Homo sapiens: one gene and its partners. The protein of the gene in region 1 purifies or fractionates together with the protein of each later gene. This does not show direct contact. Each region holds a gene or a part of one and is shown in the gene's direction. Other genes may lie near its edges. The genes, in order: ANKRD44, PPP6R3, PPP6C and NOTCH3.

Region 1 (7,027 bases):
CCCTCCAGGACTTTCAGCCACAAGTGGAAACTGATCTTCTTGCTGAGATTTTAAAGAATGTGATGAAAATATTTGTACACCAAACCTTCAGCATCTATATCATTCTCAACTTTAGAGCCACAATGAATTGAAAAAGTAGGCTGTCACTTCAGTCTTTTCCTCTGACACACATGACACATGTCCTGCTCTGACATCATATTTCTACTTTGTCAGAACTCCAGATCTCTGACCTGCCTTTAGATTTCATGTTAATTTGGCTCAGATCATCTGCAGGCAGTGAGGAGGCCTCACCATTACAGAATGTATGCTTGATTTCATTGTTGGTTATCTTTCAGATGGTCAATTTACTCTTGGCCAAAGGGGCAAATATCAATGCATTTGACAAGAAGGACCGGCGTGCTCTGCACTGGGCAGCATACATGGGTAAGGATTCCATGCATGGAAAGCAAAGTACAGATAACCTTAACTAAATAAGCCATGGGTCTCTCATTGACCATGTAGGTTTTCTCCAGTCTGACTTCTTTTCAAGCTTGGGTTGCAATTGAATGAAGATTTGGTTGGTTTTACTGGCATGCATAGTGCACTCCAGTCGGGCAGTTGCTTTGTCAGATATTTATTTATCCTACAAAGAAGAGGAGGAATGAATCATGGCTTGGGCCTCTTTGAATGTGCTTCAGTCTGGATTGGAAAGCTGCACAGATTGTGCTTATTTTAACTTGTCATGGCAGTAAAATAAGGTGTTTTAAAAAGAAAGAGCACTGGCTCGGAAAGCAAGGACACAAATTCCATTCGTCTTTTTAAATTTATAAATATTTTTGAAAGAAACAAAAAGAAAGGAAGAAAAGACAAACCTCTGGCTATTTTATAGATGGAGGGCACCAGAGGCGCTGGTGATTATCCTGATAGTCCACTGACGACAAAACTGAAGCCTGCAGCCCTCATTTCTACCCGCTTGGGAGAGTTCACATTTCTACGTTTTTCCTTTTCACTTTTGTTGGCAAATCCCACTGACAAATGAGAGATCTCACAGAGTTTATTCTAAGTGTAGACTTGTGGGAAATGAAGAACTAAGATATTCCCTTTGTGTTTCTAATTGGAGAACATCCTGCCATTAGAAAAATAGACAGGATTCTATCAGCACCAAGTTGTAAACAACCTGAATGCCCATCCACAGGAGATTGTTTTGGTAAATTCTGGAAGATCCACACAAGGGGACACTTTGCAGTAACTACAGTGATGAGTCCATGAGTGTTTATTAACACAGAGTCTGTGATATGTTAAATGAAAGCATATTATAAAACAGTATAAATAATATAATTCTCATTTTCATTGAAAAATCTGTACAATAACAAACTTGGAAAATATTATATGCTAAAATTTTAATTGATTGTCTTTGGGGATTTATGATTGTGGATGATTTTGGTTTTCTTTTAATACCTTTTTGCCTTTCTGAATCCTTTTTAACAAGCATATGTGCCTTTTATCATCACTTTAAAAATTAACATTAATTGTAGGGAGAAAGAGTAGGTTGGGGCAGGGATGAAATAAATTATGTGGCTAAAGGTGGGTCTGAGTGAATCCTTGGGCTTAAAAAAACAGAATCTTAAACTTTTACAAGCATTAGCATTTAAAAAAAAAAGTTGACATGGATTTTTGAGTTGGCTGAAGCATATGAAATGACTGCGTGGCACCTGCAGGACTGGAGCCAGTGACTGTGGGAGACAGCTGTGTAGGCCGAACACACACTAAGCTAGTGTGGATAGGACTCAAAGAATGCAAAGTTTCACGATTGCTCTCTGCTGATGTATATACAGTTAAAGCATTTGGATAAATGACTCTAAAGAAATCAAATCATTGTTTTGTGTGCTGTCAGGATACAAATAGGAATAATAGGCAAAACCAGGGCAAATAGCTTAAGATAGCAGCACTAATAATCGAAAAAAATTTTTTCTATATAAAGTCTTGGAGAGAAAAGAGTCAAATTTTAATAAAACAAGCCAATACTTTCCCCCCACCCCAACACACACACAAAGTCCTGGAGTCAGTACTTGTCTTCTACCCTTCAATTTTCAGCCATATTTAGAGCAATGATCCTGAAGCATTGAACAATCTTCAGTCCCGAAATAAAGGTCAAATATGCTTGTTTCTTTGTTTATTTATTTATTTATTTTTTGAGACAAGGTCTCGCTCTGTTGCCCAGGCAGGAGTGCAGTGGTGTGATGTCGGCTCACTGCAGCCTCTGCCTCCCAGGTTCAAGTGATTCTCATGCCTCAGCCTCCTGAGCAGCTGGGACTACAGGCATGTGCCACCATGCCCAACTAAGTTTTGTATTTTTAGTAGAGATGGGGTTTCACCATGTTGTACAGGCTTATTCTATATATAGTGAATTATGGAACAGAGTAAAATATTGTAGAAAAAAATGCTAACAGGAGCTAAAACTAGAAGGGTTTTCTGTTTGGCCTCTAATTCATGAGGATACTTTTAAGTTGAGGCATATGTAATTGCCATTTTTGTGGGTCCAAATACAGTTGAGCAGCAGTAATTTTATATGATTAAACAATAATCTGGGGTCATTCTCATTAATTGTTTTTTTTTCTTTTATCAGTTTTTCCTAACTGAATTGTCATTGTTAAACTTTTCAGTGAGGAATGGCAATTGTTTTCAAAAGCATTGCTTTCATTTTAATACAACATTTTTAAAGGCTCTCTACTAATATCTTGGCAAAACCTCACCATTATTCATTAGTGTGGTAACAAGCATCACCTAGATCTCCTTGAAGAGAAGGCTCACATATGAATCATCTTTTTTCTCCCCACAGCTTTTACATTATGCCTGACTATAGGAGGTACTCAATAAATATTTGTTGAATAGTTGCCATGAACCAGCTTTTTACAAATAACTCAGCAAAATACTGGTGGCGATGAAAGCTAATAGTTGATAATTTAGGTGAAATGAATCAGCAAATTGTCCTATAAAGGTTAACGATGTTTTCTGCTGCTTTGTTTGTAAAGGCCACTTGGATGTTGTAGCATTGCTCATTAACCATGGCGCAGAAGTGACCTGTAAGGATAAGAAGGGTTATACCCCTCTGCATGCTGCAGCCTCCAATGGACAGATTAATGTTGTCAAGCATCTCCTGAACCTGGGGGTGGAGGTGAGCTATGATGAATGCATCAATGCATGGCCAGTGTATTTGTAAGATTTCTGTTATTCTAAAGTTAAATCCTGTTTGCACTTTAATTCAAGGGCAGGGGAATTGTTTTCTAGCATCCTGTCTTTTTGAGTTTTTGTGGGCAACTGATGAAGGGCAGTGGGGGCATACACTAAGCAGAGGAAAACTGGAAACTGAATAACTTTCTATATCAACATAGATAAATATATAGACATAAAGATTCTATGTAATATATATTAACCAGTTGTTCTTAAAGACTGGCCAAGGTTCTGCATCCCACCTTCCAAATGTAGCCTTCTAAGTCATGACTTACAGCAGAAATGAATGAATAAATGGCAGAGACAAACAGCAGCAATGTCTACTCTTGAGCTGGAAAAGGCAGACTGCTGCCTTCTCTTTCTGCTGGTAGAACAGGAGCAGTGGTGAGGCTGGAACATCCTGTCCCCCAAGAAAGGAAAACCAAGTTGCATCATTATGGAAAACCATAATGAGGAAACCAGGCATCCAGGGCAGGTCTCAGAAAGCAATAGGGAGCCGTGGACGAAACACACCTCCTGACGGCACCACTGCTCTGCTACTAAAATGCAACCTGGTGAGGTGTCGGACTCCAGAGCAAAACAGAGAGTGGATTCTGACCCGCCTTCCATGTTTAGACTCCACAGCCACCTCCCCTGCCATCTCCGCAGCCACTTCCTCTGCCATCCCCCACCATTTCTTGAGGTTTTCTGTGCCCCAATCCTAGAGTGTGGGACTCTTTTCATTCTCCTCTGATTTACTTCTCTTTTGGTGTTTTGAAAGCAGCTTTGCCCTTCACCTTTTATTCCTTTGTTAGCTGAAAAATACCTCTCCCCAGGATGAAACTTCTCTGTCTCCAGTTCATTTTTTGCCACATTGACTTTTTGCTGATCTTTACCATGGGGTGACAAGCATTCCCAAGATGACCACACTGGGGCAAGAGTAAGCTCTGAACAATTATATTGGCGGATGGCTATTTCCTTTCTCTAGCCACAGCCGTTATGCTTTTTGTGGAAAATGGAGTAAACTGGCTCTAATGACTTTAATCACCCTGTGTTGGACTCTTTTGCAGATTGATGAAATCAATGTCTATGGAAATACAGCGCTTCACATCGCCTGCTACAATGGACAGGATGCTGTGGTTAACGAGTTGATTGACTACGGTGCTAACGTGAACCAGCCAAACAATAATGGGTTCACCCCTTTGCATTTTGCTGCTGCCTCCACTCATGGTGCTTTGTGTCTTGAATTGTTAGTAAACAACGGGGCAGATGTTAACATTCAGGTATGACACTCTTAGTCTCTGTGTTGAATGCCTTTGCATTGAGCTTCTGTTTGAGCAAAATCAACTGCTGCAAATTATGCCATGTTTTAGTGAGTTGGAACCTCACAGCCTTGTCCTGGATTTGGAGGCTATAAGAAAAGTTGTCTGGAGGCTGAGGCAGGTAGATCATGAGGTTAGGAGTTCAAGACCAGCCTGACGAAGATGGTGAAACACCATCTCTACTAAAAATGCAAAAATTAGCCAGGCGTGGTGGCGGGTGCCTGCAATCTCAGCTACTCGGGAGGCTGAGGCAGAGAATTGCTTAAACCCGGGAGACAGAGGTTGCAGTGAGCTGAGATTGTGCAACTGCACTCTAACCTGGGCAACAGAGCAAGACTCCGTCTCAAAAACAAAAAAAAAAAAGTTGTGTTATTTTTCTTCAGGAGTGGTGGTATCAGCTGAAAGGTACCAAGGCTCCAGCCGTGTGTTCTTGTTAGCTTAGTGAATGTGTCAGGACAAATACTGGATCTCTAGGATATTGACTTGCCCAGAAGCTAATACTGAGGTGAATGTTGAGCTGATAGGGCAGTGTTGCTAAGAATTCAAAGGAAGGCCTAATAATGATTGTAGGCCTGTTTCCAACTCCAGTGTGGGTTTAGAGCTTCTCAGATACCTTCTTTCTTTTCTTTCTTTTTTTTTTTGAGATGGAGTTTTGCTCTTGTCACCCAGGCTGGAATGCAATGGCGTGATCTCAGCTTACTGCAACCTCTGCCTCCCAGGTTCAAGCGATTCTCCTGCCTCAGCCTCCCCAGTAGCTGGGATTACAGACATGCACCACCATGCCCAGCTAATTTTTTGTATTATTAGTAGAGATGGTGTTTCACCATGTTGGCCAGGCTGGTCTCAAACTCTTGGCCTCAAGTGATCCACCTGCCTCAGCCTCCCAAAGTGCTGGGATTACAGGTGTGAGCCACTGTGCCCAGCCAATACCTTCTTAAAGCAAACCCCAGATAGTGGCTTCAGTGATGTAGCACTGAGCTGGTCATCACAATCATTCCTTTATTCAGCAAATTTACTAAGGACTACCCAGTGCCCTCTGTTTGGTACTGAAAGAGTGCTCTAAGATGAGATTCAGTCTCTGCCTTTAAGGAACTTACAGTGTAGTAGGGAGGTAGCATGCACTCAGGTAATCATGAGCAAGAGAAGATATGATGAGAAGAGTCATAAAGCATTGCAAACTCTAAGAAGCAATTGTTGACTTGTTTTTTGCTTGGGAATAAAAAATGGAGATCGATTTTGAGGGGAGACTTGGAAGATTAATGTAGTTGAGTTGAGGAGGGATAGAGATAATTTGAGAGAGAGTGTTCCAGATAGAACAGCATGAGCAAAGAGGGGTGGGAATTCTGGATAGGAAAACCTCTAGGTAACTTGTCAGCTTGCCATGTGACAGCTAACCAAGGGGAGCTTATCACGCAGCATTCATAATTTGGGCGACATCACTTGAATGCATTTAGATTGTAGCAGAATATCCTTAGCTGTGCTAGGAGACCTTTTATTCAACCCAGGCTTCCCTTCTTCCCAGCACACAGGGATCCTGAAGCAAGGTCCCAGTGTATTCTGTCTCTGGTTTTGAAAAATGATTTCTAAGGTGTAATTTCAAGAATATCACATCAGTCTATTTTAATAACCTTCTCTATTCACTATTAAAATCTTATATTTTTTCACAATTTCTAATAGTGGTGAAAGATGTGACAAATTTTCAGAATAGCAATTGATTGTATCAAATAGAGTATAATTTTATGAACATGCCAAGTGTGGTGGCTCGGCCTGTAATCCCAGCTCCTTGGGAGCCTGAGGTGTAGGATTCCTTGAGCCCAGGAGTTTAAGATCAGCCTGAGCAACCTAGTGAGATCCTGTCTGTAAAAAGCTTTTTTATTTTTAATTGTATGACAGAAAGGAGCCAGAAATGAGCTGAAATGTGATTTGACCAAGGAAGAGGACTCATCTACTGGATGATTTTGAGCCCAAGGAGCTTGGGCCTCTCCAGGCTCTGCAGGCCACGAATCATTCTAGGGGTCATATGATCAGACCTGAGCATTAAAAACAGTAATCCGGTCACAGAACACCAAAGGCAGGAAAAAAAAAGGAAAATAATCATATATATGACTACAAAAAAGTCTTAAACATTTATAAAACAAAACAACAACAATAAAACCTCTAACATGAAATTAAAATAAGAGCAACTTAGGGAAAATTTTCTTCAATATACATGATAAGCAAATAGTTAATATGCTTGATATAAAAAGAGCTCATACAAATCAATAAGAAAAAGTGATCATTACTAGAAAACATGGAGCAAAAGTCAGATCACAAGAGAGAATAAAAAATACATTAAGCCTGTGAAAAACTAGTATTACTGGTAATTAGAAAAATACAAACTAATACAAAAACGTACATTTGTGTTAAAGAACGGCAAATATCAAAATGGCTAATAACACCTAGTATTATCAATGAAAACATTGAAATGCAATAAAGAAATATGATCTCTTTTTTAATGCTAAAATGTTATGGTTATG
Region 2 (7,027 bases), on another chromosome or scaffold:
TTCTTTCCTTTCTTAACTTCAAATGATTGTCTTTTGATTTACTCTAGTTCAAGAGTTCTCAGTTGGGGGTGGTTCCCCCCTCACCCCCCAGGAAACATTTGGCAGTGTCTGGACATATTTTTGCTTGTTACACCTCTGGGAGTGGGCAGTGTGCTTCTGGAGGGTAGAGGCCAAGGATACTGCTAAACATCCTACAGTGTCCAGCATAGCCTCCTCCCTGCCCGCCAGCAAAAGTATCCAGTCCCAAATAGCAACACTGCTGAGGTTGAGAAATCCTGCACTTAGATAGATGTGAGACTGGCCTACATTAGAATAAGCCTGCATTAGAATAATTAGAAATTTTTTAAGACCATGGATGTTGGACTCCACCTCTGGAAATGGTGGGATTGAGAATCTTATTAATTTTTTTTGAGATGAGTCTAGCTCTGTCGCCCAGGCTGGAGTGTGGTGGTGCCATCTCGGCTCACTGCAACCTCTGCCTCCTGGGTTCAAGCAGTTCTCTGCCTCAGCCTCCCTAGTGGCGGGGATTACAGGCACCCGCCACCATGCCCGGCTGTTTTTTGTATTTTTAGTAGAGATGGAGTTTCACATCTTGGCCAGGGTGGTCTTGAACTCCTGACCTCGTGATCTACCCGCCTCGGCCTCCCAAAGTGCTGGGATTACAGGTGTGAGCTACCATGCCCGGCCACGAGAATCTATTTTTTAGAAGCTTCTCAGACAATACTGAAATGCAGCTGAATTTTGGAACCACTGTTTTACACCACAGGTTTAGGGACTGTTTGTGAGTTAAGGGTTCCTTTCGGTGATCTGTGAACTTGGTCTTTGCAGTACCTAGATCCTGCCTTGGAGATTATTTAGTAGTGGGGATTATTTAGATGGTATACTTAACCATTTTTCAGATGCCTGAAGACTGAACTTTAGAAGCATTTGTTAATTGATTTTATAAAATATCTTAGGACTTTTTTTTCTTAACCTCATGAAAATACATTACCATACTGTGCTGAAACTAAGCAAAATTCTTAGATATTTAGAGTTTGCTTCTGTGCTGAATAATCTTACACTACTGTAATTTTTGAGTTAGTATCTTTTGCCCTCCTTTTGTCAGTCAGTGGTCAGGTCTGGTTTTAGATGCCAGCTTCAACTTTTTTTTTTTTTTTTCGGAGACAGTCTCACTATGTCACCCAGGCTGGAGTGCAGTGGCATGATCTTGGCTCACTGCAACCTCCGCCTCCTGGGTTCAAGTGATTCTCCTGCCTTAGCCTCCTGAGTAGCTAGGATTACAGGTGCGTGCCACCACACCTGGCTCATTTTTGTATTTTTAGTAGAGATGGGGTTTCACCATGTGGGCCAGGCTGGTCCCGATCTCCTGACCTCAAGTGATCCGCCCGCCTCGGCCTCCCAAAGTGCTGGGATTACAGGCGTGAGCCACCATGCCTGTTTTTTGTTTTTGTTTTTGTTTTAATAAAGACCTATTCCCAGAGAATTAGCCCTGGATCAGTTTACCAGTTCTGCCCATTGAGGGCACAGATAGGCATACAGTATGCTCAGCCTTTAACACAGTGATCCTGCCCACTGGTAAGTTGGACTCTTCTGTGCCCTAGACTCTGATCCCAGCAGAGAAGTGTTCTTTTCTCCTGGGGAGATGAGATGCAGTGGTAGAGAGAAGGGTAGATCTTTTTTGCTCATATTAAAATTTAGATTATCTAGTTTATGGAATGGAAGAATATTAGGAAAACTATAAATTTTTAGCAGCTAAATGTTAATATCTGAAGTTACAAAAGGTCATGGAGGCATTTTCTTATTCTTCATCCTGAAATTCGGCCTGTGCCTATGTTGAGAACTACCAGTGACCACCATCTACTTCTAATATCCATTTATTTCATCAGCAAATACATTAATTGAGTCCTTACTCTGCTAGGAACTGTATTAGGGATTCACTGATGAACAGGCCCTTAAGGACCTGCAGTCTAGAGGAAGAGGCAAACAAGAGACGACAAAGCTGTTAAGAATTGTACATGGTGTCAATGGGGCCTGGGAGGAAAGAGCTTCTGTTTGCTGGTCAGTTGGTTGATTTGTTTAAACTTTGGGTGGTTGAGATTGCCAGAAGTTTTGCAAAAGAATAAGATAGTTACACTTTGTTACTCATTTATAAGAAATGATTACTTCGACTTGCCTCCTTAGTTTGAGGAGTCTTAAAAAGCAGTGCCATTCTTCCCATACTGAAGCCGTTTTGTAATGACAGATAGCTGTTTATAGCTCCCTACACAACAGTTATCCTTTGACCAAACCTCAGACACTGACTCTCTGGTTCCAGACCCGTCCGAAGCTTGCTGTAGGTTTTTGCAAAATGTTTCCGGCATTCTTGAAATAGATGCTACTTCAAGTGGGAGGGGGTGTTTCTCCTGCTGCATTATGGATCTAGGTTGACTGGAGATTTTGTTTTGGCCTTTTGACTTTGGCTTAGATTTATTTGTCATGGAAGCCCCCTTTCCTACTTCTCACCCCCTTTAGTTTTATGAGGAGGGAGATAGTTGCTAGTTAGATCAATACTCAGTTTATTTCAGGTATTGAAAGATTACAGACTGACATTTGGATACCAGGTAGGTTGGCTACGTGGTAAAGAAGCAAGTAAAAGGGCATTTGACAGTATGTGGAAAGGTATCTTATCTCTATGCCTAGCTAGGACATTTTCTTTTTTTTTTTTTTTTTTTTGTTGAGACGGAGTCTCGCTCTGTCACCCAGGCTGGAGTGCAGTGGCGTGGTCTCGGCTCACTGCCAGCTCTGCCTCCCGGGTTCACGCCATTCTCCTGCCTCAGCCTCCCCAGTAGCTGGGACTACAGGGGCCGGCCACCATGCCCGGCTAATTTTTTGTATTTATTTATTTATTTTGAGACGGAGTCTCACACTGTCGCCCGGGCTGGAGTGCAGTGGCGCTATCTCGGCTCACTGCAAGCTCCGCCTCCCAGGTTCACACCATTCTCCTGCCTCAGCCTCCCGAGTAGCTGGGACTACAGGTGCCTGCCACCACGCCCGGCTAATTTTTTTTGTATTTTTATAGAGATGGGGTTTCTCCGTGTTAGCCAGGATGGTCTCCATCTCCTGACCTTGTGATCCGCCCGCCTTGGCCTCCCAAAGTGCTGGGATTACAGGCGTGAGCCACCGCGCCTGGCCATTTTTTGTATTTTTAGTAGAGACGGGGTTTCACCGTGTTAGCCAGGATGGTCTCGATCTCTTAGTGAGCCGCCCGCCTTGGCCTCCCAAAGTGCTGGGATTACAGGCGTGAGCCGCTGCACCCGGCCCTAGCTAGGACATTGTCATGTCACAGACTGGGCAAAGAGCTGGCTTTACCCTGAGTAGAGGCTATTTACTAATTGTCACTTACGGCTGGCTAGAGTTGACCTGTTTTAGATGCATTAGTGAAGACTATACAGTTGACTGAACTTATGCAATTAAAGTTCGATAGGTTCTGAACATCTTTTTACAGATATAAGGAGGCTCTGATTTTGTACTTCACAGTAACTCTGGGGAAAACCACGGGATTATTAGTTCCAGAATTTCTTACAGTGGAAATACATAGTGACTTGAAGTGATTTGAATTCCCCAGAGATTGACTACCGTGAAATCTGATGGCCCAAGAAAAGATGAATGAAAGATTGTTTTTAGGAACATTAGAGAGCAGGACTAAAACGGCTGCAGACTGATGTTGAGTCAGACAGACTTGGAGAAAGCTGTGTGGGACTGTTAGTTGGAGCCTTGGGTTTCCTATACCTACATGTAAATCTGAACAAAAATTCTGGTGGCAGAGACACACTTTGAGAAAAAAGAGCTTGCCTGAGAACACATGTCACACTGAGACCCTAATCAGGGCAGTTCACACTGCCTGCTCCATGGTTGGCTGGTCAGATTGGTTGGGCTTTGGTCCTCAGATGGGCGTAGCGGGAGGAACACTGACTAGTCTTGACAATTGACTGAGGCTTCCATTCGTGAGAATCATGGTTTTGGGCTGCAACAACACTTAGACGTCATTTATTTTCTATTTATTTATTTTTTTGAGATGGACTCTCAGTCTGTCGCCCAGGCTGGAGTGTAGTGGCGCGATCTCGGCTCACTGCAACCTCCGCCTTACAGGTTGAAGCGATTCTCCTGCCTCAGCCTCCCGAGTAGCTGGGACTACAGGCGTGTGCCATCACACCCAGCTAATTTTTTATTTTTAGTAGAGATGGAGTTTCACCATGTTGGCCAGGCTGGTCTCAAACTCCTGACCTCTAGTGATCCGCCCGTCTTGGCCTCCCAAAGTGTTGAAATTACAGGCATGAGCCACCACGCCCAGCGCATTTATTCTTACAGAAAAATGGAGGCCATGCAGAAGAATGGAACCAGAAGGAGCAGAGAAATCTCAGCCCCGGTGATTCCATAGGATTGTGATGTTCCAGACCACAGTTTTAAGTGCTATTTGTTTCAAGAGTGACATCACAGCTGGATTTTACTTAGAATTCAGAATAAGTGGTTAACGTCTGGAATTTTATTTTTGGTAGTAGTATGTGTCAGTTTTTTGTCACTGTATAGTAGTTGAGGAGTTCTTTTTTGTTGACATAGAGATACACAGGGTTTGTATTGCCTTTGGACAATGGACAGGTCTCATCTGTCTCTTTTGTCTGCAAGTGAGACCCTGCCCCTTCTGAGTAAACAACACTCTGTGAATGACTGTCCCTTTTCACTGTGGACTTCTTGTTATTACACCCTTAGATGGACTCAGCAGCTATGAGATCCTCCCATCATAGGTATGGTATTTTGTAACAAAAGTACAGAAACACCTCCAAGGTGCAGTGAATGATCTCAAGGAGAGAAATGGAGTATTATAGGATCATAGAGAGGCCTCGAGGTCTAACCAGCTGCTCTGCGGAAGTCAGGGTGATGGTGGTTTCAGTGTTGGGGAGGTTACAGAGTTAGTGTTGATATGCAAATTTTCTTCCTCCAAATTTGGAGTATGTTATATATGTTTTAATGTATATAACTGTGAATATGAATATAACATTAGAACATATATAACATAATTTCTGCTGGTGGAGTAGAGATCATAAATTTGAGGTTTGCAGTTTGCTTTCTAAAACATCTTTTAAGTTTATTCTTTTCTGGCACACAGGACGTTGTAGGGTAACTTTGCTGTGGAGTCTCACATTTTATATAGAATCATTTTTTCAACATAGTGTGGATAATCACATACGCCTTGAAGGATCAATATATGTTAACAGATGATTGGATCTTTTTGATTTTGCACTTAATTTCTTTACAAATTCTGCATTATAACCAGACAGCTCTATTGAGGGTTTGCAGATTTTTTCTGTAAAGGACCAGTTAGTAAATATTTTAGGCATTGGAGGCTAAATGGTCTCTGCAAGGACTCATCTCTGCTTTTGTAGTGTGAAAGCAGCCATAGCCAATCTGTAAACAAATGAAGGTGGCTGTCTTCCAATAGGACTTTACTTATAAAAGCAGACAGAGAGTTGGATTTGGCCTGTGGGTTGTAGTTTGTCAATGCCTGCTCTAATCTGTTTTGTCTTTGTTTATCTTTTTGAGATAGAGTCCCAGGCTAGAGTGCAGTGGTGTAATCTGGAGTGCAGTGGTGTAATCCCAGGCTAGAGTGCAGTGGTTTTTGTTTATTTTTTTGAGATAGAGTCCCAGGCTGGAGTGCAGTATAGCTCACTGCAGCCTTGACTGACCTCCCTGGCTGAAACGATTCTCTCACCTCAGCCTCCCGAGTAGCTGGGACTGTAGGCACATGCTACTACACCCAGGTAATTTTTTTTTTTTTTTTCTTGTAGAGACAAGATCTTCCGATGTTGCCCAGGCTGGTCTTGAACTCCTGGGCTCAAGCAGTCCTCCCACCTTGTTTTCCCAAAGTGCTGAGATAACAGGTGTGAACTACCATGCCTGGCCTCTAATCTGTTTTTTTATTTTAACTTGTAATTGGACTATGAATTCAAAGAGTATATATCAGCATGTGCCCAGATATTAAACATTAGAACTGACACTTGTGTACCCACTAACCAGCTTAGGAAATAGAAGGTTGCCATACCTTTGGCTCCCTGTGTCCTCGTCTCACCACTTCCCTCTTTCTGACCTCCCCAAGGCAAATACCTTGTATGTATCATTTTTCTGCTTTACTTTATGGTGTTGCAAAGTATAAATGTATCCTTATATAATGTGACTTCATTTTTGCATTCCTTTAGACAATGTAAATGGAGTCACTTTGTTCTTTTTTTGCCCCCACTCAACATTGTTTCTGTGATCCTTTTATTCAGATGTTTGAGTACTTACCATGTCTTAAACACTGTTCTACTGCTGGGCATGTTAACAGTAAGCAAAGCAGATGAAAAGTCCTTGTTTTCATGGAGCTTACATTTTGGTAGGGGAAAGACAGTTAACAGATAAATGAAAGATACAGTAGCCATATGGTAATACAAACAGGGAGAAAAGTAAACCAGGAGAGGTGGGGTGTGGGGGAGTGCTTGTCTGCAGATTGAAATACAGCAGTCAACAGAAGGAGTGGAGGGACCCAGCCACAAGGCTGTGGGTGGCAGTGGGGTAGGGGCAGCATTATAGGCGGAGGGTCAGCAGGACAAGGTGCTAAGAAGGAGGCATGTCTGCTGTGTTGGAGGGGCAGCGGAGGCCAGTGTGGCTGGAGTGAGGAGCCTGAGGGAGAGTGGGAGGAGGGTAGGCCAGATGGATGGGGGAGATGGGGGGAGGGCGTAGGTCACACTGGCCATTGTTAAGATTTTGTCTTTTTCTCTGAGTGAGATGGGTAAGTCATTTGGTGTTTTGAGCAGAGGTGTCACATGATGTGGTTTCTAAAGGTCCCACTGTCCTGTGCTGCTGGAGGGAGGTTGGACGCTCTGGCAGTGATCCAGGAGAGCAGTAATGGCAGCTGGGACTGAAGGGGAGCAGGGGTGGGAGTGAGAAGAGGTTGGCTGCTGGATCCTTCTTGAAAAGGAAGAGCAGACAGGATTTGCTGGCAGATTGGAGTGGG
Region 3 (7,027 bases), on another chromosome or scaffold:
CCGGGTGTGGTGGCGGCTTGTACCTGTAATCCCAGCTACTCAGGAGTCTGAGGCAAGAGAATCGCTTGAACCCGGGAGGCGGAGGTTGCAGTGAACCGAGATTGTGCCACTGCACTCCAGCCTGGGTGACAGAGTGATACTGTCTCAAAAAAAGAAAAAAAAGAAAAAAAAATGGTGGTTTTTTTTTTCAGGGAAAGTTTTTGAGAGAATGGCACAGCAGATTCTTGTAGATTTCCCTGGAATCAAAAATCTTGTTTGTATAAACATTTAATAGAAAAAATTTGTTTACGTGTATTTTATTTTTTTGTTAAAATCAAATTTCCAAATAATTCAGTATGTAACTCTTTATTGTAGTTATAAACTATATGTTTGTACAGTTTGATATAATTTGAAAAGAATATTGTGGCTATTGTATTGTTTGTAACTGTAAACTTTTACTTCACAGGGTGATTTTGTAGACAGAGGTTACTATAGTTTGGAGACCTTCACTTACCTTCTTGCATTAAAGGCTAAATGGCCTGATCGTATTACACTTTTGCGAGGAAATCATGAGAGTAGACAGATAACACAGGTCTATGGATTTTATGGTAAGAATTCCTATTTCTCTGATTCTGAATATTATTTTACTTTCCTCTTTGGAAAACAAAGCTACACAAGTCATACACATGCTTTATGTATATTATTTTCCCCACATCCTCACTCCTTCACTCCTCCCAAACAATTGAAAATCTTATGCTCGAGAGAAGACCACTGTTAACTTTTTGGTGTGCATCTTTCTAGATCTGTGCCTCAAAGTGTAGCTGGAATCACCTGGGTTCTCATTAAAAATGTAGATTGCCGGCCGGGTGGGGTGGCTCACACCTGTAATCTCAGCACTTTGGGAGGCTGAGGCAGGCGGATCACAAGATCAGGAGATCGAGACCATCCTGACCAATATGGTGAAACCCCTTCTCTTCTAAAAATACAAAAATGAGCTGAGCGTGGTGGTGTGTGCATGTAATCCCAGTTACTCGGGAGGCTGAGGCAGGAGAATTGCTTGAACCAAGGAGTCAGAGTTTGTGGTGAGCCGAGATCATGCCACAGCACTCCAGCCTGGCGACATAGGGAGACTCCGTCTCAAAAAAAAAAAAACCAAAAAAAAAAGGAGAATGCTGGGCCTCACCACAGATTTATTAATCAAAATATTTTGGAGTGGGAATCTAGAATCTGCTGAAGGTGAATGTTCTGCACAAATTTGAGAGTCCATTCTCATCCATTTTGTATGTGTGTGTGTGTGTTTATGTGTGTTTATATATGTACAAACACGTGCACACTAAAATGGGGACATACCTGATTTTTTCACTTTATTAATGTTATTTTCATGGCTGCTTCATATACCATATGGATGTAGCATAATTGATGTATCAGTTTTTCCTCTATCGTTGGACTTTAGAGTTGTTTTTAAGCTGCTGTTATACATCCTTTTACATATATCTCTGTATGCTCACTCCAGAGAATGCTAGGACCTCAGGGATCAGAAGCAGAACTTAGTCATAAACAGCAAAATAGGCCAGGCGCAGTGGCTCACCCCTGTAATCCCAGCACTTTGGGAGGCCGAGGCGGGCGGATCACCTGAGGTCAGGAGTTCGAGACCAGCCTGGCCAACTAAACCCTGTCTCTACTAAAAATACAAAAATTAGCCGGGCACTGGTAGGGGGAGGGGGGAGGGATAGCGTTAGGAGACATACCTAATGTAAATGACGAGTTAATGGGTGCAGCACACCAACATGACACATGTATACATATGTAAAAGACCGACACGTTGTGCACATGTACCCTAGAACTTAAAGTTTAATAATAAAAAAAATTTAGCCGGGCATGGTGGTGGGGGCCTGTAATCCCAGCTACTCAGGAGACTGAGGCAGGGAGAATTGATTGAACCCAGGAGGTGGAGGTTGCAGTGAGCCAAGATCGCTCCATTCCACTCCAGCCTGGGCAACTGAGCCAGACTCTGTCTCAAGAAAGGAAAAAAAGCAAACTAGCTAATTCTTTAAAACTTTTATTTGGTTGAAAGAGAGAGAGAGAGAGAGAGAGAGAGAGAGAGCGAGCTTATTAGGAAGCCCCTTCAGGGAAATAGAACTGTCAAGATTATGAATTTGGATTTTCCTTGAGCACAATTAAGACAGATATTGAGAGATTTGGAAACATTAATTGCAGAACCCTTTAGATTTAAATTTTATATTTTGAATTATCTTCTTTCATTATAAAGATAGGCTGGGCCAGGTGTGGTGGCTCATGCCTGTAATCCCAGTACTTTGGGAGGCTGAGGCAGGCAGATCACAAGGTCAGGAGATCGAGACCATCTTGGCCAACATGGTGAAACCCCGTCTCTACTTAAAATACAAAAATTAGCTGGGCATGGTGGCACTTGCCTGTAGTCCCAGCTATTCGGGAGGCTGAGGCAGGAGAATCCCTTGAACCCGGGAGGTGGAGGTTGCAGTGAGCCGAGATTGCACCATTGCACTCCAGCCTGGATGACAGTGAGGCTGTCTCAAAACGAAACAAAGCAAAGATAATCTGAACTCTCTTACTCTTCAGTTTGTCTGCCATTATCAATTAGAGAAATTTTGAGAATTTATTGTTTTTATATAATTTTTTTAATACGTGTAAAGTTAGGTAATATTTATCTCCTTTCTACAGGTGACTTTTTATTTTCATTCACAAAATAAACACCAATTGAAATACAACTTTTGGATTCTTTTGCAAAATAATCAATATTTTGGATAACATACTATGATATTAGCTCAGTGAAAACAGTACTAAAACTAATGTTATAAAAACACACACACCTACTATATATATGTAACTAATGCTACATGTATAATATATAAAATACATATTGTTATATATGGCTAATATATGACTTTTTTTTTTTTTTTTTTTTGAGACGGAGTCTCGCTCTGTCACCCAGGCTGGAGTGCAGTGGTGCGATCTTCGCTCACTGCAAGCTCTGCCTACTGGGTTCACGCCATTCTCCTGCCTCCGCCTCCCAAGTAGCTGGGACTACAGGCGCCCGCCACCATGCCCGGCTAATTTTTTTGTATTTTTTAGTAGAGACAGGGTTTCACCGTGTTAGCCAGGATGGTCTCAATCTCCTGACCTTGTGATCCGCCCGCCTCGGCCTCCCAAAGTGCTGGGATTACAGGCATGAGGCACTGCGTCCAGCCATATGACATATGTTTTGAATAAGATAATTTTAGTTATTATAGGACTTATATTGATTTTCAAGGAATAAAATATCCCTATATGACTTTACACTGGGACTTCAGTTCACACTGATAAACACATACTGGGCAGTTACTATTGAGCCAAGTTCAAGATCCCTGCCTGCAACCTGAGCTCATTGTTAGGGCTCTCTTATGGCAAGTTTACATAACAATCTTGCTTCACGTAGATATATAATTGAGAAAATCTTGGGGATTGGTCATAACCTGCAGACTTCTTTCCTATATCATTTTCAGCTTCACTTAAGGCAATAGTGATATGTCAGGTTTTTTTTTTTCTAAAATTATGGAAGAAGCCAAAGTACAGAGCTTCCATGGTGTTAACAAAAGAAGTGTGTACCCTATTAACTATGTAGACAGTCAGGGTACAGTGGCTCACATCTGTATTCTCAGCACTGTGGGAGGCTGAGGTAGGAGGATTGCTTGAGCTCAGGAGTTCAAGACCAGCCTGGACAACATAGGGAGATCCCCATCTCTACCAGAAATAAAATTAGCCAGGTGTGGTGGCACTTGCCTGTAGTTCCAGCTGTTCAGAAGGCTGAGGTGGTGGGATCGCTTGAACCCAAGTGGTTGAGGTTGCAGTGAGCTGTGATCGCGCCACTGCTGATTGTGCCACTGTATTCCAACTTGGGCAATAGAGTGAGACCTTGTCTCAAAAACAAAAAACTACGTAGGCAGCAGAAAGAGTGTTCAACTGAGAATTTGTAAGAACCTGATTGGCAATCTGTCCTCAGTTTTGATCCACTGAAGCTCAAGTGTTTAGTCGCACGATTTGCAGAAAATCTCAGAAGAGACAACTTAGCCCTGAGAAGAGTTAGGAATTGCTCATGCTCCTATAACTAAGGATCCTCTAATTTGTTTGATCTGTTTATCCTGCTAGAATTGTCTCCTTAAATAAATTTATCTGCTTACCAGAATTGCCTAATATTAACATAACTGTTAAAACATTTGCTTCAGGTTGTGTGAAATTAGTATTTAACTCTTCTAATGATAGCATTTTGGCTAATAATTTCAGCTGCTTCTTAGGTCCATTCCAGGAATGAAGAGCAGTACTACATCCTTAGGAAATACAGTCATGTGCCACATAATGACATTTCAGTCGATGATGGACTGTATATATGACAGTGGTCCCATAGATAAAACGGAGCTGAAAAATTCCTATTGCACAAATACTTACCATTGTGTTACTATTTCCTTATGATATTTAGTACAGTTACATGCTGCACAAATTTATAGCCTATGAGCAATAGGCTATATCATATTGCCTAGGTGTGTAGTAGGCTAGACCATCTAGGTTTATGTAAGGACATCCGATGATGTTCACACAACGATGAAATCACCTAACAATGCATTTTTTAGAATGTATCCCCATGGTTAAGGGACATACAACTGTATGTAGTTAGTCACTAGCGTTCTTTTGGCTCTATGTGGAGGTCCTAGCAGGACTAAATATGTGTCATATCTTGCTATCCTAGTTTAAGCTGAATTTCTGTTGTACTGAAGGCTGCTCTAGTATTGGATATATTGTTTATTTTTATTAGCAGATTCATTAATTAAAACCCTTCTGTTTCTTTCACAGATGAGTGCCAAACCAAATATGGAAATGCTAATGCCTGGAGATACTGTACCAAAGTTTTTGACATGCTCACAGTAGCAGCTGTAAGTTTCTATTTTTAAAGTCTCATGTACGTTCCTGCCAATAACACATTGCATATTTTTATCTAGTTGTCATCTCAATTATATTGATATCTTTAGTATTCACTGATGAGTTTAGATATGCCTGAGGTTATATGTTCAACTCTTTGTTATCCTTTTTTGCTAGTTAATAGATGAGCAGATTTTGTGTGTCCATGGTGGTTTATCTCCTGATATCAAAACACTGGATCAAATTCGAACCATCGAACGGAATCAGGAAATTCCTCATAAAGGAGCATTTTGTGATCTGGTTTGGTCAGATCCTGAAGATGTGGATACCTGGGCTATCAGTCCCCGAGGAGCAGGTTGGCTTTTTGGAGCAAAGGTCACAAATGAGGTAAAGCCAACATTTTTGGAAATGTAATTTGTGGATTGCTAATGGGCTGCATAGAGAACTATGGTGGCCCTAGATAACAAACTTGTAGTCTAGCTTACTCAAAATATGGTGGCTGTGGATATTAAATTTCTAGTTTAGTTATTAACGTATGTCTTTCTTTAATGGTTAAATAAGATGACACAGTGAAAGCACCTACTCCAGCATCCATTTGGTAATAATGTATAAAGTAAATGTTCTTTCCTTTTTTTTTTGTTTTTGAGATGGAGTCTTGCTCTGTCGCCTAGGCTGGAGTGCAGTGGCGTGATCTTGGCTCACTGCAACAACCTCTGCCTCCCAGGTTCAAGCCATTCTCCTGCCTCAGCCTCCTGAGTAGCTGGGACCACAGGTGTGCGCCACCATGCCTGGCTAATTTTTGTATTCTTAGTAGAGATGGGATTTCACCGTGTTGGCTAGGCTGGTCTTGAACTCCTGACCTCAGGTGATCCACCCGCCTCAGCCTCCCAAAGTGCTGGGATTATAGGTGTGAGCCACCGCACCCGGCCAGCCCCTTTCCTTTCAAGTACTGTAGTTAAGTAACAAAATGGCAAGACCAAGATAGGCAATACTTTTTTTTTTTTTTCTCAAAGACCTCAAATCACACAGATACAGACACTTTATTAGTTTCCTCTACAAGAGACAATAACATGAATCTTTTTTTTTTTGAGACAAGAGTTTCGCTCATGTTGCCCAGGCTGGAGTACAATGGTGCAATCTCGGCTCACTGCAACCTCTGCCTCCTGGATTCAAGCGATTCTCCTGTCTCAGCCTCCCGAGTAGCTGGGATTACAGGTGTACACCACCACGCCTGGCTAATTTTGTATTTTTAGTAGAGACGGGGTTTCACCATGTTGGTGAGGCTGGTCTTGAACTCCTGACCTCAGGTCATCTGCCCACCTTGGTCTCCCAAGGTGCTGGGATTACAGGCGTGAGCCACCGCGCCCAGCCTACGTCAAATCTTTTTTTTCTTTTTAACAGAAATCTCTGTTCATTTGAAAAGCCAAATAGATCCAAAGAAAGAAGATGAAAATTAAATACTTAAATTAATCAAAAGGCACTATGATACCACCTAAAACCTACTGCCACAGTGGTAGTAGGCTAAGGAAGATCAAGCTACAGCAAATCATGTAATGTGAATGTTAGCGATTACATAGCAGGAAGCACATTTGCTTTCCAGAAGACTACGGTACAGTGTTCATTTGGGCCCAAGAGGATCTTTGGCCAGGAAAGGATCAAGATGGATGAAGGTAAAGCCAAATCAAAGGAGTAGGTACAAAAGAGAATCCAAGCTACATAGTCAAGCAGATGATGATGGATCAGGCTTCTTCCTCCCAAGAAACATTTGCTGCGCTGTGCTGCCTCCCCCCTCAACCACCCCCCACCCCCTACCCCATGGCTGCTCAAGCCCAACTGCCTACTCCTGCCTTACAGGGTGCTCAGCCACCGGGACTAGGTTTGGGGTTGCCCAGGGCTCTTGCCATAATTTAGCATAGACCTTGGGGAGAACTGCTCACACATGGGTTGGCTTTGCTGCTGGTTGTTCTCAACAAAGAAAACCCTGAAGCATTCACATGCAGAGTAGTCTGAGCTTCTCCAGTCACAGTCAAACACCCCCACACAACATCCTCAAAAGTCTGAAATCTTGTAACAGCTGAGCTATAGTTAAAGCTGCAAGGCTCACAGAATCATCAAGGAA
Region 4 (7,027 bases), on another chromosome or scaffold:
CCTAGGATCCCCTGCCCCTTCCCCTTCTATTACCCCTGAACCTGGGCATGAAGCCCCAGACCTCCCTGTAACACTCAGCACCCTTACTTCCTGTCTCAGCACACCCCATTCTGCACATCTTAGCTCTGGCAGCTTCCCGAGCCCCCACATCTGGCATAAGACAGCCCCTCCTCCTGCCTTCCCCTGCTTTGTGGTTCCCAGGGCTCGAGCTGGCAGGGACAGCTGCAGCCTCAACAGCTGGGGCTGGGGCGGGGGGGGGGGGGGCGTGGGAACTGTGGATGGGGGGACTCCCTGCACCCGCAGAGACGCCCCCATCCCCATGCAGCTGTTGCCTGGTGGAGGGAGGGAGGGGGTTTGTCACTTGGGCCTGGGGTTCCTGGGCACCTGGCTGATCCTCCACCTTCCTTCACCCCCACACAGCCCCCCCTTGCCTGGACGGAAGCCCGTGTGCAAATGGAGGTCGTTGCACCCAGCTGCCCTCCCGGGAGGCTGCCTGCCTGTGAGTGCCTGGCTCAGAGCCACCAGTGGGCCCTGTGTGTGGGGGCGGGGGGGAGGGGCGATTTGTCTTCTCCCTCTGCCTCTGTGTTCACCATGGATGTCTCTACCACTTCCTACATGTGTGTGGCTTGGGCAACCTCTCGTGTTTCCCCATTGGAAACTGAGCAGGGGCTCTGCACTCTTCTTGGCATGGGTTCAAGTCCCACATCATGTTGCTGACCGGCTAGGAATTAAACTCTTTACATCTCAGTGTCATGGTCTGCAAAATGGGCCCAGTAATCCCAGCTTCACAGTTCTTGGCCACCTGAGGTCACATGTAAAGCCCCCCATGAGGTAGGTATTATTCAATCAACAAACTATCAGGGACCAATCGCAGTGGCTCACACCCTCCACACCCCTCCCATCTCTCAACATTTAGTGGAGGGGGACATAGGAGGCCTATAATACAGTCCCACACTGCCACTTACTTGCAGTGTGACTTTGGGCTAGTCACTTTCCCTCTCTGATCATCATTGCACCTGTGAAATAGGGAATGCTTCACTGGCGACTGTGAAGGGACTTAACAATTTAGTTGTTAGATATCACAAGGAAAGGCAAGAGGTTGCAGGGAGCAGAGCAGAGGCTGGGAAGGAGCTGAGCAGAGACAGAAAGAGCTCAGCTTAAATTCTGGGGTCTGGGACACCTTGAGCATTCAAGCTTTTTGAGCCTCAGTTTTTGCATCTGGAAAATGGGGCAATAATAACTCCTGTATGCACTCAACATACATTAAGTGCTCAGAATATAGTATGTGCTCAACATAGGCATTATTATAAATAATAATGGTAGGGAGGCAGGAAACAGGTGCTCTAAGGAGAAGTCTCTCAAGGTTATGAGGAAATGCTTGGCTCCTTTCATGCTATCATTAATAACAGCAGTTCACGCAGTAGCCATTGATTGACTCATTAATGTATTCATTTATTCAGCATCATGTGTGCCAAGTACTGGGTCAGGCCCAAGCTGGGTGGGTCTGGGGTGATTTTAGACCAAGAAGAGCCGCTTTGAAGTTACACCTACATTTATTTTGGCTGGATCTCCCACTCGGGCTCACCTTTGTGGAGGGCTGAGCCTGACTGAGAGGGTTTCCTGGGGCTGGGGGGTCTGCGAAGGTGGGGCGGGATGGGGAAAAGTGTGACCTTACCTGGAGCCACACACCTGGGAGGGCGAGCGGTGGGGCCGGGCGCCTGCGCAGTGGAGCTCCGCGCCTGGAATACTGCCGACAGGTGAATGAGCCCGCGGCTGCCCCGCCCTTCGACAGGTGAATCACCGGCGCGCGCGGCGCCCGGAGCCCGGATCGCCCGGAGTGGAGCGGGCTCAGTCCTCCGAGTTGGGCTGTGGGAACCACTCCCTACACGCCCTCCACCCCCCACGAGTCTCTTTCACGGTCTCAAATACTCAAGTCCTTTCAAGGATGCCCCCAAGCTGTCACCCCACCCATGGATCCCCCAAGACCCCCCCACCGGCAGCAGACGTTTCCATAGACCTCGTCCCCATCTCCTAGTCCTCGCCTCACCCGCCGTGCCCCCCCTAACTAGGTCTGCGCTCCCCCCTCCGTCTCCCCCAAAGCTTAGGCCGTGGGGCGGGGCGCGGGCTGGGGCTGGAACCGGCCCGACCGGTCGGCGGGGGCGCGGGACGCAGAGCGTGGGAACCCGCCCGGGGCGTCGGGAGGGGGCCCGCGCGGGTCGCGCCCTGCCTGGCGGTGGGACCAGCTATCCTCGGCGCCCAGCGCAGCGCGCCCCCTCCCGACGCGCGGTCGGGGCCGCAGTGGTCGCCCTGCGGGCCTTGGAGGAGGGGACGGGAGCTGTGCCCTCCCCTCCCAACGCCACCCGCACCCTTGCTTGCTCGGCCGTGCCCCGACCTGTTTCGCTGGGGGCCGGGGTGGGGGGGATCTTGCGGGTGACGCTAAGGACTGAGTCAGCCGCTTGTTGAGTTCAGTCTCAGGCGTCTGGGACAAGCCGGAGGGAGGACAACCGCGCCAGGGGCGGAGGGTGGGGGGATAGAGGGGGGTGAGGGTTGGCAGCGTCGGGGGGCGGAGCTTGGACTCTCTGGCTTCTCTAAGCCCCTCCCTCTGACCCCGCTAGTGCCCCTTGGAGATTTCCAGTCTTAAGACCAACCCCTCCCAGTTCCAATTCCTCACACTCCTTGGTGGGCTTGGGGAGGGGGCTGCAGGTTGAAGGACCACCCCCCCAAGATGAGGGTACCAACAGTGGTGTCAGTACCCCAACCCTCCACCCTCCCATCCCTGCATAAGAGGCTATATAAGTCCCAGAGAAGGGACTTGAGGGTTTGTGGGAGCCCTGCTGTCTGTCCCTGTGAGTGAGAGTTGCTCATTTCCGCGTGGGATGCTGTGGGTTGGTGTCTTGAGTGCTGGCCAGGCCATGGCGTCCAATTGGTGTGTCCCTCTGTGTGTGTAGCTGTGGTTTCTGGGCCTGTCTGTGTGTGCCTGCGTGGTTGTGTCCTGGGGTCTGAGACTTCTTTTTTTCCTTTTCCTTTTTTTTTTTTTTTTTGAGATCGAGTATCGCTCTTGTTGCCCAGGCTGGAGTGCAGTGGCTCGATCTTGGCTCACTGCAGCCTCTATCTCCTGGGTTCAAGCGATTTTCCTGCCTCAGCCTCCGGAGTAGCTGGGATTACAGGCATGTGCCACCACACTTGGCTGATTTTTTGTGTTTTTAGTAGAGACGGAGTTTCTTCATGTTGGTCAGGCTGGTCTCGAACTCTTGATGTCAGGTGATCTACCTGCCTCGGTCTCCCAAAGTGTTGGGATTACAGGCGTGAGCCACCGCGCTTGGACATGGGTCTGAGACTTTTCATTTGCTGTTCCCTCTGCCTGGAATGCCGTTCCCCAGAAAGCCCCATGGCCCCCTCCTTACCTTCATATGTCTGTGAAAATAGAATTCCACCTCCTTGACCCCATCATTCTATCCCCCTTAACCCTGTGGTTTAGCTTCCTACGGCTGCTCTAACAAATTACCATAAACTGGGTAGCTTGAACAATAGTAATTTATTCTCTTGAAGTTCTGGAGGTTGGAAGTCTGAAATCAAGATATCGGCAGGGCTGAGCCTCTCCATGGGGACCCAGGGGAGAACTGACTCTTGCAGCTTCTGGTGGCTCCAGACGTTTCTCAGCTAGTGGCTGTCTCACTCCAGTCCCTGTCTCTGTCTTCTTCTCTTCCTTCTCCCACCCAAATCTCCTTTTGGCTGCCTCTCTCTTTTTTTGAGACAGAGTCTTGCTCTGTCACCCAGGCTGGAGTGCAGTGGTGCAATCTTAGTTCACTGCAGCCTTCAACTCCCAGGCTGAAGCGATCCTCCCACCTCAGCCTCCCAAGAAGCTGGGACTACAGGTGTGAGCCACCACGGCCAGCTAATCTTTTATTTTTATTTTTTAGGTGGAGTCTCTCTCTGTCACCCAGGCTGGAGTGCAGTGGCACGATCTCGGCTTACTGCAACCTCCGCCTCCCAGGTTCAAGCAATTCTTCTGTCTCAGCCTCCTGAGTAGCGGGGACTACACGAGTGCACCACCACGCCCAGCTAATTTTTGTATTTTTAGTAGCGACGAGGTTTCACCATATTGGCCAGGCTGGTCTTGAACTCCTGACCTCGTGATCCGCCCACCTCAGTCTCCCAGAGTGCTGGGATTACAGGCATGAGCCACTGCGCCTGGCCTGTTTGTTTTTTTTGTTTTTTGTTTTTTTTTGAGATGGAGTCTCCCTCTGTCAACCAGGCTGGAGTGCAGTGGTGCAATTTCGGCTCACTGCAACCTCCGCCTCCTGGGTTCAAGCGATTCTCCTGCCTCAGCCTCCAGAGTAGCTGGGATTACAGGCTCCTGCCACCATGCCCGGTTATAATTTTTAATTTTTTTTTGTGGAAAAAAAGTCTCCCTATGTTGCTCAAGCTGATCTTGAACTTCTGGCTTGAAGTGATTATCCTGTCTTGACCTCCCAAAGTGTTGGGATTACAGTTGTGAGCCGTTCTCTTGTATGAACACTTGTCACTGAATTTAGGGCCCAGGTGGATAATTCAGAATAATCTCATCTTGACATCTCTCATTTAATTACATCTGCATAGCCAGGCCTGGTGGCGTGTGCCTGTACTCCCAGCTACGCAGGAGGCTGAGACAAAGAATTGCTTGAACCCCGGGAGGTGGAGGTTGCAGTGAGCCAAGATCGCGCCACTGCACTGCAGCCTGGGTGACAGAGCAAGACTCCGTCTCTTAAAAAAAAAAAATTACATCTGCAAAGAGCCATTTAAAAAAAAAGTAAGGTCCTAGTCACAGGTTCTGGGACATGGATGTCATCTTTTCAGGGGCTGTGACCCAACTGACTACATCCTTCATGGTTCTGATGGCTTTCACCGCCCCCTGCCAGCATGTTGTATATTAATTTGTTATTCGTATATGTTCTCCTTGCCTGGACCTGGCTGCAAGGATCCAGAGGGATAGGGACCCCTTTCATTGTGTTTGTTGCTGTATTTGTATTGCTCAGAACGTAGTAGGTACTCAGTAAATATTCGTTGCATGAATGAATGTGTGTTTTGTTTTGTTTTGTTTCTTTGAGACCGAGTCTTACTCTGTCACCCAGGCTGCAGTGCAGTGGCGCGATCTTGGCTCACTGCAACCTCCACCTCCCGAGTTCAAGCAATTCTCCTGCCTCAGCCTCTTGAGTAGCTGGGACTACAGGCACGCACCACTATGCCCAGCAAAGTTTCGTACTTTTAGTAGAGACGGGGTTACACCATGTTGGCTAGGCTGGTCTTGAACTCCTGACCCCAAGTGATCTGCCCGCCGCAGCCTCCCAAAGTTCTGGGATTACAGGCGTGAGCCACTGCTCCCAGCAAATGTGTGTTTGCTGCTCTGTTTCCCTGCGTGTTTCTTGCCTGTCTTGTGTGTATCTTTGTGTCTGGGGCCATCCTGCCCTGTGCTGCCCAACCAAGCCATCTCTGCCCACAGGTGCCCGCCTGGCTGGGTGGGTGAGCGGTGTCAGCTGGAGGACCCCTGTCACTCAGGCCCCTGTGCTGGCCGTGGTGTCTGCCAGAGTTCAGTGGTGGCTGGCACCGCCCGATTCTCATGCCGGTGCCCCCGTGGCTTCCGAGGTGAGAGGGGAAGAGTCTGGAGGGGAGGTAGTCGGGGGTGTGGTCAGTCCTAAACTCACCCTGTCCTGGTCCCTCCAGGCCCTGACTGCTCCCTGCCAGATCCCTGCCTCAGCAGCCCTTGTGCCCACGGTGCCCGCTGCTCAGTGGGGCCCGATGGACGCTTCCTCTGCTCCTGCCCACCTGGCTACCAGGGCCGCAGCTGCCGAAGCGACGTGGATGAGTGCCGGGTGGGTGAGCCCTGCCGCCATGGTGGCACCTGCCTCAACACACCTGGCTCCTTCCGCTGCCAGTGTCCAGCTGGCTACACAGGGCCACTATGTGAGAACCCCGCGGTGCCCTGTGCACCCTCACCATGCCGTAACGGGGGCACCTGCAGGCAGAGTGGCGACCTCACTTACGACTGTGCCTGTCTTCCTGGTGAGTGAGCCCTACTCAGGAGAGTCAGAGGGGTGGGCGTGGGGACAGCAGGCCAGCCCGGCGGTGACCATCCTTGCCCCCTTCCCTGCTAGGGTTTGAGGGTCAGAATTGTGAAGTGAACGTGGACGACTGTCCAGGACACCGATGTCTCAATGGGGGGACATGCGTGGATGGCGTCAACACCTATAACTGCCAGTGCCCTCCTGAGTGGACAGGTGGGCACTGCGGCCAGAGGGAGCGGGGAGGCAGGCCTCGGGTGGACATGCGCCAGGTGGCTGGACTGCTGCATCTGTGTGCCACAGGCCAGTTCTGCACGGAGGACGTGGATGAGTGTCAGCTGCAGCCCAACGCCTGCCACAATGGGGGTACCTGCTTCAACACGCTGGGTGGCCACAGCTGCGTGTGTGTCAATGGCTGGACAGGCGAGAGCTGCAGTCAGAATATCGATGACTGTGCCACAGCCGTGTGCTTCCATGGGGCCACCTGCCATGACCGCGTGGCTTCTTTCTACTGTGCCTGCCCCATGGGCAAGACTGGTGAGTGGCCGTTTTCTCTGCAGGGAGCCATGGATGGTTTTTAGTGAGGGCAAATAAGAAGTCTGACTTGAGTGTTAGAAAGATTATGCTAGGCTGGGCACAGTGGCTCATGCCTGTAATCATAGCACTTTGGGAGGCCCAGGCGGGCGGATCACTGGGGTCAGGAGTTTGAGACCAGCCTGGTCAATATGGTGAAACCCCATCTCTACTAAAAACACAAAAATTAGCTGCGCGTGGTGGTGCACACCTGTAATCCAAGTCTCTCAGGAGGCTAAGGCACGAGAGTAGCTTGAACCCAGGAGGTGGAGATTGCAGTGAGCCAAGATTGCACCACTGCACTCTAGCCTGGGTGACAGAGTGAGACTCCTTCTCAAATTTAAAAAATAAAAAAAAGATTATGCTAGGCCGGGCACAGTGGCTCATGCCTGTAATCCCAGCACTTTGGGAGGCCA

Evidence for each region.
Region 2: the proteins of ANKRD44 (region 1) and PPP6R3 purify together in Homo sapiens (affinity purification with mass spectrometry; 4 studies listed by BioGRID and IntAct, with this or other methods). This does not show direct contact.
Region 3: the proteins of ANKRD44 (region 1) and PPP6C purify together in Homo sapiens (affinity purification with mass spectrometry; 7 studies listed by BioGRID and IntAct, with this or other methods). This does not show direct contact.
Region 4: the proteins of ANKRD44 (region 1) and NOTCH3 purify together in Homo sapiens (affinity purification with mass spectrometry; 4 studies listed by BioGRID and IntAct, with this or other methods). This does not show direct contact.

Annotation. Positions count from the first base shown.
Region 1 is NC_000002.12:197,118,777-197,125,803, reverse strand, and holds part of ANKRD44 (serine/threonine-protein phosphatase 6 regulatory ankyrin repeat subunit B), read left to right. Parts: intron 1-335; coding exon 336-423; intron 424-3,011; coding exon 3,012-3,154; intron 3,155-4,259; coding exon 4,260-4,472; intron 4,473-7,027. UniProt on the Homo sapiens protein: Putative regulatory subunit of protein phosphatase 6 (PP6) that may be involved in the recognition of phosphoprotein substrates.
Region 2 is NC_000011.10:68,463,742-68,470,768, forward strand, and holds part of PPP6R3 (serine/threonine-protein phosphatase 6 regulatory subunit 3), read left to right. Parts: intron 1-7,027.
Region 3 is NC_000009.12:125,151,801-125,158,827, reverse strand, and holds part of PPP6C (serine/threonine-protein phosphatase 6 catalytic subunit), read left to right. Parts: intron 1-445; coding exon 446-587; intron 588-4,842; coding exon 4,843-4,922; intron 4,923-5,085; coding exon 5,086-5,295; intron 5,296-7,027.
Region 4 is NC_000019.10:15,190,972-15,197,998, reverse strand, and holds part of NOTCH3 (neurogenic locus notch homolog protein 3 precursor), read left to right. Parts: intron 1-420; coding exon 421-499; intron 500-5,479; coding exon 5,480-5,622; intron 5,623-5,700; coding exon 5,701-6,039; intron 6,040-6,131; coding exon 6,132-6,254; intron 6,255-6,341; coding exon 6,342-6,575; intron 6,576-7,027. UniProt on the Homo sapiens protein: Functions as a receptor for membrane-bound ligands Jagged1, Jagged2 and Delta1 to regulate cell-fate determination.